Linked DNA regions of Homo sapiens: region 1 is linked to region 2. The links come from fine-mapping of genetic effects on gene expression. A gene starts in region 2. The other region holds a variant in brackets. All regions are shown on one strand. Distances are between the middles of the regions. Region 1 has its middle 47 kb from the start of NORAD. Region 2 holds the start of EPB41L1 (erythrocyte membrane protein band 4.1 like 1).

Region 1 (9,674 bases), 56 kb after region 2:
AGGTGCTGGGAAGCAAAGAATAAGACATAAGGCATCCCAGTGCTCACAACCCGGTGAAAGCCACCTCCCTGGATAAAGCTAAGACCAAAAAGAACTCATCCCCCAGAGGGGAACAGATAAGGTACTAAGGGAGTGCAGAGGAGTTAAAGACAAATTTCATCTTGGAGTGAGGGGGAGGGCTTACAAGGCTTTGTAGGACATAGGCTGGCATCTGAGCTGAGCCTTGAAAAGGCAGACAGGATTTCAACAGTGATTGGGGAATGGAGGGGGTGGCATTCTTGGCAGGGAGGAACAGAGGGAGCTAGGGCAAAGACATAGGAAGCACTGGGTGTGTCCCAGGAGCCTCAGGAAATTAGTTTTCGCAGCCCTCCCCTTGGCACTGACCCACATGTCCAGCTCTGAACAGAGGTCACCTTGAGCTTCCCCAGATTCACAGGCACCTTGCTCAATTATGGTGAGTGGGGACGGAAAGGGAGAAAGGACTTGAGCATTTGGGCATGTGGTCAGACAGAAGGGACTCAAGGGGCCAGAATGCAGGCTGTGTCCAGAATCTCTGAAGATGGAAGATGCAAAAGTGGGAGGTCCCCCCAGTGGTGGGTGAAGCCAGGGAGGAGCAAGGAAAAGGACAAAGAACTTGGACTGGGCAGCAGGAGACCTGACTTCCAGAACCACAGATCAAAGCTGCATGGAAACTTGGGATTATCCTGTCCAACCCCCATTTTACAGCTAGGAAAACTGAGGCCCAGACAGAGGGACAGGTCTACAGTCCCTGACCACCTTCACAGCAAAGCCAGTAATGTGCTGAGAGGCATGAGAGACCAGCCCTCTCCACCCAGCTCTGCCATTGGCTCCCTGGTGACCTTTCTCTAGACGTTAGGCTCCAACTGCGCAAAACAACCCTGAAGACAGCAGTTCTAAAGTTGTATGGGTTGTGACTCCAAGACAGACGGTGCCTGTGGATCCTCTCCTAGGGACAATGCACACTCTTAACATTGTGCATGCCATATTTCAGAAGTTCATGAACATCTGAGGCCAGCCTTCTACAAGGGCAATCTGAGAACCATCTGTGTCCCAATCATCTCGATGGGGAGACTGTTACAGCAGGCTGCTTCCGGGGCCCTACCTCGGATCTGACGCCCACCCCCCACCCCGCCCATGGAGCAGCTGGGTTTGAATCTCTTGGGTGAGGTCTGGAAAAAGAGTGCTGGGTTTTTTTGTTTTTTTTGTTTTGTTTTGTTTTGTTTTGTTTTGTTTTTTGAGACAGAGTCTCACTCTGTCACACAGGCTGGAGTGCAATGGTGTGATCTCAGCTCACTGCAACCTCCGCCTCCCAGGTTCAAGCGATTCTCCTGCCTCATCTTCCCTAGTAGCTGGGATTACAGGTGCATGCAGCCATGCCCAGCTAATTTTTGTATTTTTAGTAGAGACAGGGTTTCACCATGTCAGGCTGGTCTCGAACCCCTGACCTCAGGTGATCCACCTGCCTCAGCCTCCCAAAGTGCTGGGATTACAGGCATGAGCCATGGCACACAGGTTTTGTTTTGTTTTATTTTGCTTTTTAGCATGCTCACCTTTGTTGCTCTTAGGGGGAAACAAAGTTTGAGAGGCCCAGCCTTAGGGAACCCTAGGAGGGAGGGGAATGGGGTGGGGTGCTAAGCTGCTCCCCCTTTTAGGTGTTTCACAAATTGAACTTCTGCTCCCTTGCCTATGAAGAGTGGCTCTGTGGATAGAAGTTTCAAAGCCACCACTCCTTCACCAAGGTCCCTTCTGACTGAGCCACCTGCTCAGGCAGGCAGGTGGCTGGGCTGAGCCAGGCTGACCAACATAATGGTCTCGGTTGGGGTGGGTGGAGGCTCAACAAGCTGACTGCAGCTGCCCAGATTCCTGAGTGACAGTCTGAGACCAGCAGCCCTGACTGGGAGGGAGTCTGGACTCCCGGGCTGCACATGGGGTGAGAGCAGGTTTCCTATTCCTCCCTCTCTCCAGGCCACCTCCCTCTGGCCCTCAGGCCAGCTCCTTTTTTTCTTCTGGTGGATATGTACCTCTGAACCTGGGTCTCCTGGCTCCGGTCTCTGCCTCCCTCCCCACTTCTTCCAGAGTTCCACCCGTCACTGAGCCTGCAGCATATCCAAGCTCCCAAGCAGTCTTGTGAGGAGACAAAAGTAATGCTCTTTGCAAATGATATGCTTCTTTAAGTGGAAGACTCGATTCAATGAAAAATTGAGGTGGCCAGAGACAAAACAATAACTAGGAAAAAAGGCAAGTACCTTCAGATGGGCCCTGTCACCACCCCCCATACCGATGCAGTGTCTCTCCTACAGGTGGGCAGCTGCCTAGAACCAGATGGGCTCAGAGCCTTGGCGGGCCCCAAGGCTGATGCTGTAGAAAGGCCAGTCCCGGAGGTGCTGCCAGAGTGCAGGCCTGGGAGGGAAGATTCCTCGATTGGAAGCCCTTCTTTCAGAGTCAAGAATTTGTTCTCTGAATTTGAGCAAATGCATGCCCCTCTGTGGACACCTAAATGCTCCCGCAGGCTCTGTCACAGGCCATATAGGAAAGACTCAAGAGTACCGGTGGGCTTCGGACAGATCTAGATTGAAATCCCAGCTGTGCCACTTGCTGGCTGAGGACTGCGTAGGCCTTGGGCAAGTTATTTAGCCTCCTGTAATACGACGGGGATCATCATCTCTGCCTCACTTGGTAGTTGTAAGGATTAAAAGACATAAGGCATGTAAAGCGCTTAGCACAGGGCCTGGCACACAGTAAGCCAATAAACATAAGCAGTTGATTATAAGTCACCAGAGTGAGCCTCTTATGAGGAAGACTCTAGACTTTCTAATTCTAGGTGGCCTCAAGCAAACCCAAAACCACCCACCTGAAGTGGGCCTGGAGACTCTATCTTTAGACCTCTAATCTGGGGACAAGGTGGGGAGAGGGAAGGGGAGAAAGCAGACAGAAGGGAGAGAGCAAACTGAGAAGAGGAGGGAGGAAAGGAAAGAAGAATCAAGGGGCCAAGGAGGGGCCTGGCTTCCCCAGTGTGGGGGGAAAGGAAGATGACTTGCCAGAAACTACCAGGACAGTATAAGCCCTCTCTCTTTCCCAGAGCTTTCCCTAGACCCACCAAGGCAAGGCTTAGAGGGACAGGACCTGCTGAGAAATGCCACCCTGGCTGTCAACAGGGACACTGAAGCCTTGGGTTACATCTAGACTCCAGAGCCCCGCATGGTGGCCCTCCCACCAGAGTAGGCAGAGATGGCCATAGCCAGAGTGATAACAGAACAACCGGCCCATTCAGCCTGCTCACTCAGAGCCCAGGGACCCCTTTCTTGGGGTTCTAATCCTGACAGCAGGACACTCTCCTGTTGCATCCTCACCTCTGGAACATATGCAGAGCCCACTCCAGGCCTCTATCTGCCCTGAGCTCCTGCTTCTGGGCCTAAAGTTGCAACTAGGGAAAAAGCACTGTTCAGACTGAAGACAGGAGCCACAGATAAGGTGTTCCAATTACCACTGACCAGCTGTGTGACTTTGCGGGTGTCACTTTTTCTCCCTGAGCATGTTTCCCTCCTCAGGCTAATAAGGGCAACGGCAAGGACCATCTCTAAGGTCCTCCCAACTCAGACAGAGGCGACACTTCATGGGATGCCTCTGAGCACAAACAGGCAAAGAGGACCTGTCTCAGGAGAGGAGCGGGCTGGGCTGGGCTGGGCTCTGAGGAGAATGCAGCGGATATGACAATGGCCAAGGGTTATTATGATGATTATTATTATAATTAAAAATCACAGCTACAAGCCCTTAAGCAATTTACAAAGAGCTTTCTCATTATCTCCTGGGATCGCAATTTGGTGAAGTAGGCAGGGCTGGATGATGATTATTCACATTTGATAGATGAGGAAAGTAAAGCAAGATTAGGTGACTTGTCCAAGCTCCTAAGTGCAGAGAAGGGAGAGCTGGAAAGGAAGTAGGTATTGAGTGCCTACTGTGTACTACCTCATTAGGCATGCTCATATCTGTTATTTTGATCAAGTCTCATGACCATGACACTACTGTAGGTGCTACTGTCCCATTTCTTTGTTTTGTTTTGTTTTGTTTTTTCGAGACGGAGTCTTGCTCTGTCACCCAGGCTAGAGTGCAGTGGCACAATCTCAGCTCACTGCAATGTCCGCCTCCCAGGTTCAAGCAATTCTCCTGTCTCAGCCTCCCGAGTAGCTGGGATTACAGGTGCCCGCCACCACGCCTGGCTAATTTTTGTATTTTTAGTAGAGACAGCGTTTCACCATGTTGGCCAGGCTGGTCTCAAACTCCTGACCTCAGGAATAATCCGCCTCAGATCACTCAAATTTGAAATACAAATCTGATCAGATGATCTGCCCACCTCGGCCTCCCAAAGTGCTGGGATTACAGGCGTGAGCAACCATGCCTGGCCTACTGTCTCCATTTCATAGAGGCTCCACTGCAAAGCCTAAATTTGGATGTAGCCCTGTGGAACTAAAAGGCATGCACTCCTCCCCAACTTCCTGCATGTATTGGGTTGAACAGTGTCCCCTCCCAACCCAAATTTATGTCTACCTAAAACTTCATAATGTGACCATATTTGGAAACAGGGTCTTTGCAGATGCAATTACTCAAGTTCAAATGAGGTCATACTGGACTAGGGTGGGTTCTAAATCCCATATGACTGGTGTCCTTA[G/T]AAGAGGAAATGAAACAGAGAGAAAGCCACGTGACGACAGAGGCAGATGCAGCTGCAAGCCAAGAAATGCCAAAGATTGCTGGCAACCACCAGAAGCTAGGAGAAAGGCAGGAAACAGATTGCCCCAGAGCCTCCAGAAGGAGCCAACCTTGCTGACACCTGGATTTCAGACTTCTAGCCTCCACAAGTGGGGGAGTAAATGTCTGTGGTTCAAAGCTACCTGGTTTGCGTGCTTCATGACAGCACCCCTAGGAAGTTAATACACTGTGCATCCTTTGAGTAGCAGACCTAGGACCCTCAAACTCTGTTTTTCAGATTCCCACTCATTAGGCAGCTTTAGAGGTTAAAGAGGACCCAGAGGCTCCTCATGAGAAGTCACTCTCACCTCTCCTGCACCTTCCAGGGCCAGGCTGTCGTGAAACCAGGCTGAAGACAGGCTTACAGAGGAAAAAGCTTCCTAGAACAGCCTGTTCTAGGTATCTATCCACCCCAGTGGGGCCTCCCATTGAGCTTGTTTAGCAGCCTCTGTGCCCAGGTCTCCAGGTCAACAGTCCTTCCCTTCCTCCCAGACCAACCATCCTCTGTCACCACCTGGAGAGCTGTGTTTTTGAAATGCAAATCTGATCCTTCCTGGTTGGCTTACTCCTCTTCCCCAGCTCCCTGCCGTCTGCAGGACTTGCTCAGGCTCTTTGGCCTGCACCAGATCTGTCCCTAATCTTCCTCTCAGCTTTATCTCCAGTCATTCACTCCTCCACCCTCATCCCTGCCACTCACCACCTCCTATTCCAACCATGTGGAACTATTTGGGGTTCCCCTAAGAAGCCGTTCTGCCTTTGCACATGCTATTTCAAATACCCAGACGGTAAAATCCAGCCCAAACACCATCTCTGTCCTCCAGGAAGCCTTTTCCTCCATAAACAGCCACACCCTGGCAGCTTGTACATTGTCCTTGCGGTGGTATTGCATCTTTACATGTCTGCTCCCACCCCCAACCTGTGAATACTGCTGGATTCATTTCTGTTTTTGTAGGCCTAGGGCCCAATACAAAGGCCTTCAAGAATGTTGAGCTGAATTGTGGAGTAGCAATAATGGTCATAATAGTTGACATTTATCAAATGTTTCTTATGCACTCACATTATGCTAAGCATTCCAAGGATGTTATCTCATTTAATTATCAAAACAATCCTGTGAAACAGATACTAGTACTGGTCCTGTTTTACAAGTAAGGAAATGAGGAAATGGAATCACTTGCCCTAGTCCCCCCAGCTAGTACATGGCAAGCCCCGAATGACTGTAGAGCCAGTGCTAGTAACCACTACTAAGTGTGCCACCCATCCCAATACCTTCATTTTACAGAGATGGACACGTGCCAAAAGGGGAAAGTGATTGGCCCTCAGTCACATAACAAGGCATGGACGCAGATATTTGGATTCCTCTTTCAATACTTTTCCTCTTCTCATTCCAGTACAAACCTAATCCAGGAAGACACAGAACCCAAGCTAGGCTGTGTCTCCTGAGGAGCCTCCTCCTGCCTCCACTAGAGCAGAGCCCAGCATGGGCCTGGACCCACGGTGAGTGCTCAAATCTACAGCCAGGAGATGGGAGATGCAGCATTGAAAAAGACAGGTAAATCAACTTGAGAAAAGGCTGAAGCCTGCTTGGATTACACATTGTCAGGGCTTGAAACGAAACTTTGGGTATCATTTAGTGCCATCTGCCATTTTATAAATTAACTCAGTTTGACAAGCTTATTGAACACAAATCATAAGTCAGGCACTGTGTGGGACACTAAGAAGATTAGTAAGCAAGTTCCTGCCCACATGGCATTTACAGTCTAGTAAAGGGACAAACAACAATTACAAATTCTCACAAGCCCTGTGAGACACAGAGAGCTCTAAGAATGTGTAACAGGGAAAATTGACTTGGCCTAGAGAGTTGGCAAAGGCCCCCCTGAGAAAGTGACTATTGAGCTGAAACATGAAGAGTGGGAGTTAATCAAGATAAGAAGCAGGGGAAGAGTGTGCTAGACAAAGGGAACAGGATGTGCAAAATCCCAGAAGCAAAAGAGCTCATGGTGCCTAGATGAACTAAAAGGCCAAAGTGGCTGTTGTCCAGAGAAGTGGGCAGGAACTGGATCCTGAAGGGCCTTAGAGATCAAAGTAAGAATTGGAGAAACTGAGCAGATCAGGGAAACCCCTCGCTCAGAACCTGGTCCACAGCACACTGTCAAAGAGTCATTGCATTAGTCACTGAAGGAGAGACTTGTCCAAGATCATAAGACCTGGGACTTGAAAGCAGAATTCCTACCTACCAGGTGGGGCCTGAGTGCTATTTCAGGCACCTGTGTGAGGGACAGGGGAGGCTTTCCAAGTGTTTCAATTAATAGATGTTTCCTGGCTCCCTGTCTCCACCTCTCTTGAGCTCCAGAGTAAATAAGAATTACCTGTGTTTGTTAAAACATAGATTGCTGGGCCACACCTCCAGAGTTATCAATTCCTAGGTCTGGCGTGAGAACCAAGAAATTGCATTTCTTTTTTTTTTTTTTCCCTGAGATGGAGTCTCGCTCTGTCACCCAGGCTGGTGCGCAGTGATGCAATCTCAGCTCACTGCAACCTCCGCCTCCTGGGTTCAAGCGATTCTCCTGCCTCAGCCTCCTTAGTAGCTGGGATTACAGGCGCGTGCCACCATGCCCGGCTAAATTTTGTATTTTTACCATATTGGCCAGGCTGCTCTCGAACTCCTGACCTCAGGTGATCCATTCGCCTCGCCTCCCAAAGTGCTGGGATTACAGGCGTGAGCCACCACGCCCTGCCAATAAATTGCATTTCTAACAAACTCCCAGGTAACCCTGCTGCTGTTGGTGAGGTGAAAAAACCACAGCTCTAGACTAGAGTATATTGGTGGGGAGATTAGTAGTGAGGACCATGGCCAGGATCTCTGGGGACTAGAAGGGTGGATTCCTGAACCTGGGTAACAACGAGACAAACTCTAGCAATCTGAGCAAGGGAAGGGTCATCAAAGTCCCAAAATCTAGCCCACTAGCTGCCTAGCCAGGTAAACCAAGGCTTAGGGAGTTTAGACCCTTTCACATAAAGAAGCTTAATAAAAAGTGTTGGGTGAAGAGATAAACACATGAAGGGGTTGGCTAAAGTCAAAAGAAGATCCCAGGCTGGGCGCAGCGGCTCATGCCTGTAATCCCAGCACTTTGGGAGGCGGAGGCAGGCAGATCCCTTGAGGTCAGGAGTTTGAGACCAGCCTGACCAACATGGTGAAACCCTGTCTCTACTAAAAATACAAAAATTAGGCCGAGCACGGTGGCTCATGCCTGTAATCCCAGCACTTTGGGAGGCCGAGGCGGGTGGATCACCTGAGGTCAGGAGTTCAAAGCCTGCTTGGCCAACATGGCAAAACCCTGTCCCTACTAAAAATACAAAAATTAGTCGGGCGTGGTGGTGGGTGCCTGTAATCCCAGCTACTTGGGAGGCTGAGGAAGAAGAATTGCTTGAACCCAGGAGGAGGAGGTTGCAGTGAGCCGAGATCATGCCATTGCACTCCAGCCTAGGCGACAAGAGTGAAACTCTGTCTCAAAAAAGAAAAAAAAAAAAATTAGCTGGGCGTGGTGGCTCATTCCTATAGTCCCAGCTATTGAGGAGGCTGAGGCGGGAGAATCACTTGAACCCAGGAGGCGGAGGCTGCAGTGAGCTGAGATCGTGACACTGCCTACACTCCAGTCTCGGTGACAGAACAAGGCAAAAGATCTCTGGCCCAGACTCCAGAGCTCATGAACTCCAGGCCAGCTTTTCCCATGTCCCGGGATTCTGGGATTCAAGGAGGGGACAGAAAGCTCAGCTTTCCCCAGCCTCTGCTGCTTTTGGCAGGGAAACATTTTTAAGAATTGCAGAAATCTGCTGCTGGCCCCCAATCCTATCACCCATCCACCTTCCTTCCTTTTACACTCCCAGCTCCCTCCCTTTGCACTCCAAATCCTGTGTCCTGTATCTTGGCAAGCCAAGCAGCAAAGGGGGATGTGACGTTACGGGGAAGAACTGGAACTAATGGAAGAATTCTTGCACTTGGATATCCTTCTCTCTGAACAATTTCTTCCTCCTATAAGACTCTACTTCTCTCTACCCTTGTATCACAGTCAAAATCCAACCTACCTACATTTCAGTACCGGTATCTGAAACCCACAAAGCCACAGACTAAATTCCCAAACTTCCTTTTCACGCAGTTTTTCAAAAATGGCGTGGCCCGGTACAGAATGTTTCTCTTCTATTCCATTTGGCAGCAAAATGCCACTTCTCTGCAAACCCACATGCACAGACTAATATACAAACAACTACACATACATAAAAACAAATATACCAGAACCTATAAAAACACACACACATATACATCAAGAGATACATTTTCACTGTTCACTATACACCCAAATGTACAAGAAGTACACAGGGAGGACACATGCACACAGACTACAGATCTAGAAATGCCTGTATGCACCAGTACTTGGAGAAAGGGGTATGGACATACCCAGAGACATCTCTTTCAAAGTAGAGAGGTCTCCTGAGGAGGGATTCCCTGGAGTGAGGAGCTGGCCCTTTAAGAGAGTGGTTCTCCCTCCTAGTCCTTTTCAGGGCACCTGAGCTTCTACCCACCTACCTTCCCACCCACCCAGAGCCCTGCACGGGTGAGACTGGCACAGGCTAGGTCTGGTGGGGGGCTGGGGGGAGGCCGGAGGGGACATGTCCCCTGGCCACAACAGGAAATGAATCCCTGAACCGGCTGGTCACCAGCCTGGAAACTGCTGTTGCTACCACCACCACCCCGCACCCACACCCACATCCACACACGCGCGCGCACGCATACACATACACACACACACACACGCACGCACGCACGCACACGGGCTTCAAGCAGGACACGCCCTCCTCTCCAGCTCAGGTCAGAACGCGGGCTCTGCTGTCAGCCCAGTTCCCCCGACCCCCGG
Region 2 (9,674 bases):
ACTATGTCTTACAACTTGAGTGACCTTGATCAAGTCACTTCCCCTCTTGATTAGTTCACTCATTCTTTCATCGGACAAGTATTTGCAAACCACTGAGCAACATGCTGCGACGAAACAATGAATAAAATGTGAACTCAACTCTGCCTTCAAGGAGACTGGAGTCTAGCGTCATTCTCTTCAAACACAGAAAGGATCTAGCCCCGGCCCCACCTCTGTCGCAGAGCAGTCATAAGCACAAAATGAATCAAGGATGCAAAAGAGCTTTGCAATTGCACAGCTCCATCCACTGCAAGCAGTTTTTCTGTGGGTGTTCACCACTGCGTATTATTTTATCCAGTGGATGTTCCAAAGCTTTCCCAATCATCTTCCTATTGTTGGACACTTAGTCCCAATTTACTGCTATTATAGAGGAAGCTCTGATGGGGATTTATTCAAAAGAAATAATTCAAAGGAAAAACAGGCCAGATGTGCAAAAAAGATGCTACCCAATCTTCCAGATGACTAAAGGGAGACCAGCCCTTCTCAAACTCACCAGGCCTGAAACAGAATTCCTGACCCTGTGGCCTTACCCACTCCAAGCTCCTCCTTCTCCAACCTGGCGAACCACCCACTACCAGAGGGACACCTTAATGAGTGCCAATCTTGATCCCTCCCCAGCCCTCCAAGTCCCCACAGTTAAGGTTTCTCCTGTAAGATCACGTCCACCCTCTCCTGTGGATCATACGGTTGCCAAAAGGACCTTCCCAAAACACAGTTCTGTCATGCTCCTCAGCAGACTAAAATCCTGCAAAGATTCCTAGAGCATCCCGGCTCACGTCAAGTCGAAACACCTTGGCCTGACATTTAAGAGAGACAGAAGCGGGAGAGAAGTAATGTTTACTGAGTTCCTGCAATGTGTTAGCATTACACTAGGTGCTTTATATAACAACCACAACATGGTCCCTGTGAGACAGGCATGTTTATCTGCATTTTACGAATGAGGAAACTGAGGTTTGGGCCAGCTGAGTGATGTGCCCAAGGCCACGTGGCTAATACAATGCATTGCTGTGACTATAGCCTACGTCTGGTGGATTCCAGAGCTCCATCAAAAACCCAAACACTAGGTGACTTTCTGAGTCACCTCCCAGCTCACACTCCGCCACACACACTATCTGTTCCACGCACATCAGACCGCCCACTCTTCTTCAGAGGCATTCCTATTTCCTTCCCCTCTGACCTGGGGAAGTGGGTGCCCTTCCCCCTTCAACCATCGAAATCCGACTTGGCCTTCAGTGCCCAGCTCAAAGGTCCCCGTCTTCTTGAAGCCTTCCCTGAGCACCAAAATAGGAATCCATGCTGAGCCTATGCAATAGCACACTCTTTACTTTTAGTGTGTCATGTCTGCATCTCTCCCAGCTAGACTGGGAGGCCTTTGAGGAGAGGGATGCATCTGACTGAGTGACTATTTCAACTTGAACAAAACAGAGTATGGCCTCTGAGAAACTACAGGCTGCCTGGCATGGCCTTCAGGAACATGGCTCTGACCCACACTGCCTAGGTTTGAATCCTGACTCCCCCACAGCCTAGCTATTTGACCTTGAACAACTATCTAAGCCACAGCTCCATCAATCTGTAAAACGGGAAGAATAACTCCTATACCTCATCTACACCTCACAGGGCTTTGTGAAGAACGTATGAGTTGTACATGGAAGCCCTTAAAACTGGGCCTGGCACATAATAAATGCTCAATAAATGTTAGCTGTTACTATTCTGATCCACAAGCCTCTAGCCCACAAAGGAAGCAGTGCCAGCCTGCTCCACCCCCACCCATCCACCAAGGCTCAGCTCCCTGCCCACAGGGCCTCCTTAGCCCAGTCCCCACTGTGGCCTCGGGATGTGTCCAGAGCCAGCCCATCTTCCCTAAAAGCCAATGGGAGCAGGGAGTCTGGTGTTTCCCCACTTCTGGGGGACCCTGGCCAGGAAGGAGAAGGCCAAGGCTAATCCTTCTCTGAGAGCTCCTAGTCAGTACTTATCTACCCCTACCCCTCAGCACTATAGTAATATTCAGTCCACAAAGCCACCCTTGCCTCACCAGGCACACACACACACACCCCTCACACACCTCTCCACCTGGACTGGCCCTGGCCTACCAATGAATTGCCTGGCTCCACTGGACACCAACCTGGTACTTCCAGATATTGCCCCCAGTAAATGTCATGGTAGAAAGAAGGGCTCTGGACTCAGACCGCCTCGCACTTTCCAGCTGCGTAACTTTAGTCCAGTGACATAACCTCTCTGAGCCTCAGTTTCTCCTCTGTAAAAAGTGGATAATTAATCACATCTATCTGACAGGGTTACTGTGAAATGACTCAAAGCACTTCTTGCAGTACATGGCATACAGTAAGTTTCAATAAATACTATCACTTTGATTGTGTAATCATTGGTATTTATCTCCAGGCAGAGATGATCATCCTCCCCGCCCTTTTTTTTTCTTTGAGAGGGAGTCTCGCTCTGTCTCCAGGCTGGAGTGCAGTGGCACGATGTCGGCTCACTGCAACCTCTGCCTCCTGGGGTCAGGCGATTCTCCTGCCTCAGCCTCCCGAGTTGCTGGGGCTATAGGCGTGCACTACCACGCCCAGCTAATTTTTGTATTTTTAGTAGAGACGGGGTTTCACCATGTTGGCCAGGATGGTCTTCATCTCTTGAACTTGTGATCTGCCCGCCTCGTCCTCCCAAAGTGCTGGGATTACAGGCGTGCGCAATGGCGCACGCCTGTGTCCCCTTTTAACAAATGGGACAGAGAAGCCCAGAAAGGGGCTCTTAGGGAAGTCCCGGCAGGTGCTAACAAGCACCTCCCACCACAGCCTGAAGTCAGAAAACTCTCTGTTGCCCCCTGGAGGCTCAGGCCAGAACATCCCTGGGCACCTGGCATCCTCTCAGCTCTATGCACTTCCAAGAGGGTCCAGGACCACCCACGGCCCTTTCTCTCAGCCCTGACCTCTCCTGCTCACCTACTGAGGGCAAGGGCTGGGAGGCCAACATAACACCCCTCCTAAGGGATCAGGTAGCCTCAGGCTCCAGGCTACAATGCCTAGCCCTTGGCAGAGTCCTGTCTATAGCACAACCACCGCAGCAGGGAAGCCAGCACCTGAGCTGCAAGAGCCCCAGAACAAGAGGTGGAAGACCTGGGTACATTAATGCTGACTCCCCCGCTCAGCTGCTTTGTGACCTTGGCCAAGTCACTCTTACTCTCTAGGCCCCGTTCAACCTTTCAATATCGACTGAGTGAGGACTACCTGACCAAGCATTGTTTTCATGCAGGATTCTATGGAAGAAGCTCTTCAAGAAGCTCACAGGGCTGAGCCCAGGAGGACTGTCACATAGCCCAGGAAGGGCTTTAATAGGAACAATGCCCTCTGCACTGATCTCCTCCAGGACTGCCTTGAGGTGCCCCTGAAATCCCAGGGACTGTGCTCTGCATGCCATAAATACTATGCCTGGGTTGCCAGGCAGGCATGACCTCAGGCTGGCCAGGAGAAGCCAGCTCCATCCTTGCACAGAGCTGGCAGAGCCTTCCTGGGCCACGGTGGCTCATAGGGGAGGCTGGCACAGGCTGCCTCTGCCGCAGGCTCCATCTGGAGGAATGGGTGGGCAGAGAGGCACACAGCTGCCTCTATTCTCCACACCCTTGCCCGGGACAGGAGGCACTGTCTTCCAAGAGCTGCGGAGGGCACCATCCAGGCCCCAGATCTTGACCTGGCTCAAGTGCCACTGATTCTGGAAGGCTCCTAATGCTGAGGGTGGGGGGATGGGGTGGGAATGAAGCCAAGCCGCTGGACCCCGCACAGCCCTGGAGAGGTCCTAAATCTGGCCGTCTCACATTCCCACCTTTGGGTGCAGAGGAGGTGCTATGCGGATCCAGAAGTGAATGTGGGAACACGTGGTGCTCTCTCCCCCACCAATGCATCCTCAGAGCTCCGAGGGAAAAGCAACGACGATGGCTGGCAGCTGAGGGAGAGACCAGCATCCCCAGAACTCCCTTTTGGTCCTTGTCCAGACTTCAAGGTCTCCATGGACCACTTTGAGCCATATACGTCTGCCAGTCAGTGGCCTCTGCACCCAGTAAGTACCCCAATGGCTGTAGACATTGGCCCCCCATGCCCATCCCTGAGACCCCAGCCTCTCGGGCCCTTGGACCTCCCCAAGTGTGAAGGTGCCAGACACAAGTGGGACACACAAGCCCTCTCCCTCTGATCAGGGGACGGTCACTGGCCAGGACAATGCCAGGCCAGAACTGCAGAAGTCCTAGGGCTAAGATCCCTCCTAGCAGCTCTGAGGTACTTGGAAGGGAGACGGAAGGGGAGGCAAGCCCAGAGCGGGGAAGGGTCCGTAACCAGAGTGAGGAGAGATGAGGGCAAGGGCTCGCCAGCATCCCAGGCTCCAGCCAAGAACTCCTCCTGCAGCGTCAGAAGCAGCAGAAATCCAAAGAGCCCTTGGCCTCTGGAGGCGGCAGCAGGAGTGCTCTCCGAAAAGAGACTGGGCCAGCCGGTGGGAGCCCAGCGCCCACCCACCGCTCATCCTACAGCAGGACCAACCCCCCGCCAACCCCCAGCCTCCGGATCCTCTCTCCAGGCCTTGGAGGAGGCTGCAGACCGGTAGGTAGGGAGGAACAGCGAGACCCTCCCCCACACTGGCCAGGGGACCAACAGCCTGAAAACTCAGTTCTCGGCCTCGCCCCCGTTCCTCCCCAGGGCTGGAGGCTGGGCCTAGATGTTGCAAGCCCCCGGCCCCGAGAGCCACCTGATTCCCCCATGTGCCTACCTGGGCCCGGGGTTCCCCATGTCGGGCAGGTTGGGCGAGGGGCGGCCCCCTCGGCTCCTCTGGCAGGCAGGCCGCGGGGCGGGGCGGCGCGGGGTCGCGGCGGGCTCTGCGGAGCAGCCTGTTCGGCGACACCCCCGCCCGCTGATGGATGCCGACTGCAGCAGCGGCGGCGGCGGCGGCGGCTCGGCGTGCGCCAGGGGCTGGGCACGGTGCCCACAGCCCCGGGCCTGGCGCCCGACGCGCGGCCAGCCCCCGCCCCCGCCCCGGCCTCGGAGCCCAGCCCAGGGGCGGCCGCCGCTTGCGCCTGCCTCCCAGCGCGCCGCGGCCCTGCCCCTGCCTCCGCCTCCTCTCTGCCTGTCTCCTCTACCACCCACCTCCCCCCGCGCCCCGCCCTCTCTCTCAGGCTCCCAGGCCACCTCCTCCCGGTCCGTGCCACACGGGCAGTTCCCAGACCACTGCGGGACTGTGCAGCTGGGGGGCCTCTCGAGCGCCCCGGCTGCCCCCACCCTGGTCCTAGCCAGCCCCGGGCCTCCTTGCTCTCGCCAAGCCCTCTTGGGGGCTCATCAGCGAGAAAGGGAGGGGGAGGAGAGAAGAGGGGGATGCATGCCTGACTCAGAAGGGGTGACTCAGCCTCAGTGGGCCTCCCATCCCACCGGAGCCGGATCCCCTCACCACCCCTGCAGCACAGCGACAGGGCAGAACCCGCCTAGGACTCGGCGTCCTCCCCCACCGGGAGGAGGTATTACAACTGTCTCCTGGGAATCCTCTGTGCCTCTGAGTGTGTCCAGAGGGTGTCTATGTGTACATTTGTCCACATGCGCCTTGGTGACAATGACAGTAAGTGTAACAGTGAGAGCCCAGGGACCTATTGGGGATGGGGCCTGTGTACAGGCGCACTTGCTGTATGTGTCTGAGCACAGGCTGAGTGTGCACCTGAGCTCCAGGAAAGGGCAGGGGCTGGCCAAGCAGCTTGTGGCAGAGATCATGGCTCAAAACCAAGGTAAGCCATGCTCCTCCCCTCCAGGAGCACTGTTACCCACTAAAAAAACCAGTCCAACCACTGCAGCACCTCCATCTCACACAATCCGAAGGTGGGGACCTCAAGCCACAGAGGACTCTGGGAGGGAGAGGGCCTGGGTTCCAGTCCAGGTCTGCCACTGGCTCAGCAAGTACCCTTGGGCAAGTTGTTCCATGCTCTGGGCCTCATTTGCAAATGACGAAAGGGCTGGACGTTCCTATCTCTAGGGTCCCTAGTTCATGGCGAAGGCATAGAGAGAATGGTGGGTAACCGCAGCATGATCTCCAAAGATTTCTGTCCATGGGTCCACTGCAACCCATATGACCGCGAACCCCCAGTCACCACCCTCACCTCCAGGCATACACAACTATTCATTCATTCTTCACATCATTCCTAAGTACCTACCATGTGCTGGCCATAGTTCTTACCACAGAATCCACTGCCCTGGGAAGCACAGAGGCCCCAAGCTGGGAAGCAGCCTCGATGTGAGCTGAGCCCTCCATCCTTCCCTGATGCGATTCCCTCAGTATCAGCCTCACCAGTGGGCTCTCCATCTCTGCTTGTCACACACTATAGAGCCAGGCACCTCCCTCCCCCAACTCCTCCCTCCCAGTGTGCTGCTCCATCATGGTGACCTTCTACCCTGGGTCCTCATAGGCACTCTAGGGCCTCCAAAGAATGAGGCTATGCCCTCTCCTCAGCACCCTTTAGAGAACTCAAGATACAATTGCGTCCCTTTGTACCATGCCCAAAGCAAGCCTTCTCTTCTCCAACTTAAACCTCCTTCATCAGGTGTCTTTAGACAAAGCTTCCGGTGCCTTCACTCCCCCTGCTCACCAGGTTCAGCAGCGGATGAAGAGCAGAGAGCAGAATGAAGCCAGCTTCTCCCAGTCCTAGAGAACAGGCCCACCCTCCAGACAGAAGGTGGGAAGACAGACAAATCTGCCCAGGCCGACTGACAGAAGGACGAGTGTCCTGCTTGGCAGCCTTCTGTACAAATCCTGTCCTTTGCCTTTGGACTTCTCATCCCCAGGCCTTTCAAATTCACTTTTTCCCAGGAGCTCCCAAGGGAGTCTCACACAGGCCCCTGGGGCCGTGGCCTTGGGCAAGTCACTTTGCCACACAAGGTGCTCTGTTTGAGTTTAGCTCACCACACATTTATTTAAATGAATGAGTGAAAGGACCAATAAAACTCAGGAGTTATACCAGATGCATTTATTGTTTCAGATGCACAGCTGCTAAGAGATTCTTGACTGCCTGCCTTCAAGTATTTTGATTCCAAATAGGCTCAGTCTCCCCTGCTGGCTGAGCCTTCCCAATCGTGGGCTCCCGTGGGCAGGAGGCTCTGGGCTGCATGGCCAAGGCTCTCTCTGTTCCTCTTAGTTCAACTCTCCTTCCCTGGCCATCTCCCTTTCCTTCCTTCCCCCAGGCTGAAGCCCTCCCCACTCCTCCCCTGGGGCAGGGCCACTTTCCCACCCTCCTCAACCAGATGGAGCCTCTCACTTTCCCAGGAGAATCCAGGCTACACTCCAAAGACCGAGGCAGGATGTTCCCAGACATCGTTCTGCATTTATACCCAAAGGGCTCAATTCACTTCAGGTCATTGAGACCACACAGAAAATGAGGCTTCTGCTATTTTAATTATTTTGATTATTATTATTATTCACTAACATTTCTATTAGCACTTTCCAGTTTGCAAAATACTTTTGTGTGTCATCTGCACAGCATCTTGTGAGATAATATCATCCCTCATCTTTTTTTTTTTCTTTTTTGAGACGGAGTCTCGCTCTGTTGCCCAGGCTGGAGTGCAGTGGCGCGATCTCGGCTCACTGCAAGCTCCGCCTCTCGGGTTCACGCCATTCTCCTGCCTCAGCCTCCCGAGTAGCTGGGACTACAGGCGCCTGCCACCACCATGCCCAGCTAATTTTTTTTTGCATTTTTAGTAGAGATGGGGTTTCACCATGTTAGCCAGGATGGTCTCGATCTCCTGACCTCGTGATCCGCCCGCCTCGGCCTCCCAAAGTGCTGGGATTACAGGCGTGAGCCACCGCGCCCGGCCCCCATCTTATAAATAGGCAGGCTGAGGCTCAGAGTGGGAGTGACTTGCCCAAGGTTACGCTTACACAGTTACACTGGCTCCCTGGACTACATACTTTCCACTTTACCCAACAATAACCCTTTCCAGAAAAATCAGGCTGGAGGAAGCAGGAGAGACACTTAAGAATGTATGGCCCCCATAGGCATCAGTTGCAATTACTACTTGAGTTACTTGACTGTTTTCATTCCCCAGGCAGGGAAACTGAGGCACAGGGATAGGACTCAACCTAGGACCAAGTCTCATGGAGAAAGAAGGAAAGAGGAGCCCATCCAAAAAAGGGGTTCCTCAGTTCCTTAGCTGCAAATTCTGCTTCCAGCCCTAGCGCTACCATTTCTTTTTGTATTACTTAGGCAGGTTATTTGACATCTCTGAGCCTCAATTTTCTCACCTATAAAATGGGAGAATCCCTGCCCCATGTCTGTCACTGGGCTGCTGTGATGGGAGGTCAGCAGATGCTGGCAGAAGAGAAGGGACAGGACCCTTCATTCCCTCTCTGCTCTGTCTAGGAGGCAGGAGAAATTCTTTCCTCTTAAATTTTAACTGGATGGAACTTAATGGTGCAAAAGTCCAGGATACAGGAAAGCCAGGAGGAGAACGGAAGTGATTCGCTCCACTGGCTGGGAAAGCAAGGGACACAGAGTCAGCCACAGACCCCCAAGGTCACTGCGGGGCAGAGATTCAACCAAACACTTCAGGCAGGGCCCCTCCTATCTCCCTTTTATCTTTCAAAGGAGGAAACCAAGGTTCTAAGCAAAGCAGTGACTTGCCAAGGTCACCCACAAGTAGTCAGTGGTCTCCTGACTCCCAGCCACCAGGGCCCTTGACTACTGGGCAAGCAGGGTGGGGTGGGGAGCACTCCCAGCCCAAGGACTTAATCTTTCATTCAGCAAGCAGTAATGCTCACACCAAGCCAGGCCCTGGACACTGGGGAAGGCTGGAGGAATTGAATACAGCCTCTGCCCTTGAATTCACAATCAATCTAGTGGAGGCACGTACCCCAGCACATCAGAGGATACTAGAAGGTGAAGCACCACCATTTTCTGAGCACTTCCTCTGTGCCTGGCACTGGACACACATTCATTTGTTTAATCCTCAAAGCAATTCTCTGGCACTGAAATTATTAATCCCTTTCACAGCTGAAGTAACTGAGGCTCAGAAGGGTTAGCGACCCCAAAGTTCATCCAGCTAATAAATGGCAGGGTCGGAATATGACTGACAGGTATGTCTGGTGCCAAACTCTGAGCTTCAACCCTTATAAACTCCCTGTTTTTAGGTCTGTGCTAACCAATATGGTAGCTACTAGCCATGGCTAGTTGCTATGGAGCACTTGAAATGTGGCTCGTTCAAATAAAAATGTGCTGTAAATATAAAAATCAGATTTTGAAGATTTCATACCAAAAAGAATGTAATATGTCTCGGGCATGGCTCACACCTGTAATCCCAGCACTTTGGGAGGCCGAGGTGGGCGGATTACCTGAGGTCAGGAGTTCGAGACCAGCCTGGCCAACATGGTAAAACCCCATCTCTACTAAAAATACAAAAATTAGCCGGGCATGGTGGCATGTGCCTATAATCCCAGCTACTCCAGAGGCTGAGGCAGGAGAATAATTGCTTGAACCCAAGAGGCGGAAGTTGTAGTAAGCTGAGATCGTGCTATTGCACTCCAGCCTGGGGGACAAGAGCGAAACTCCGTCTCAAAAAAAAAAAAAACAAAAAAACCTTATGAATGTATTGGGTTAAATAAAACAAATCATTTGA

What was found.
Region 1: its variant is fine-mapped to the expression of EPB41L1 in tibial artery (GTEx, PIP 0.96).

Annotation. Positions count from the first base shown.
Region 1 is chr20:36,093,588-36,103,261 of GRCh38, reverse strand. It overlaps a transcript of EPB41L1 not described here. Among named protein-coding and RNA genes, the nearest start is that of NORAD, 47 kb to the right of the region's middle. RefSeq lists enhancers at 5,026-5,534, 7,398-7,899, 9,028-9,674 and a silencer at 9,471-9,674. The variant G/T (reference allele first, on the strand shown) is at 4,688.
Region 2 is chr20:36,150,023-36,159,696 of GRCh38, reverse strand. It overlaps EPB41L1 (erythrocyte membrane protein band 4.1 like 1), which reads right to left and starts at 4,957. Exons shown (of 22, transcript NM_012156.2): 1 at 4,801-4,957. It overlaps EPB41L1-AS1 (EPB41L1 antisense RNA 1), which reads left to right and starts at 3,937. Exons shown (of 4, transcript NR_147703.1): 1 at 3,937-4,101; 2 at 4,443-4,634. It overlaps LOC124904893 (a long non-coding RNA gene), which reads left to right and starts at 5,251. Exons shown (of 2, transcript XR_007067572.1): 1 at 5,251-5,800; 2 at 6,611-7,028. RefSeq lists a silencer at 5,019-5,218.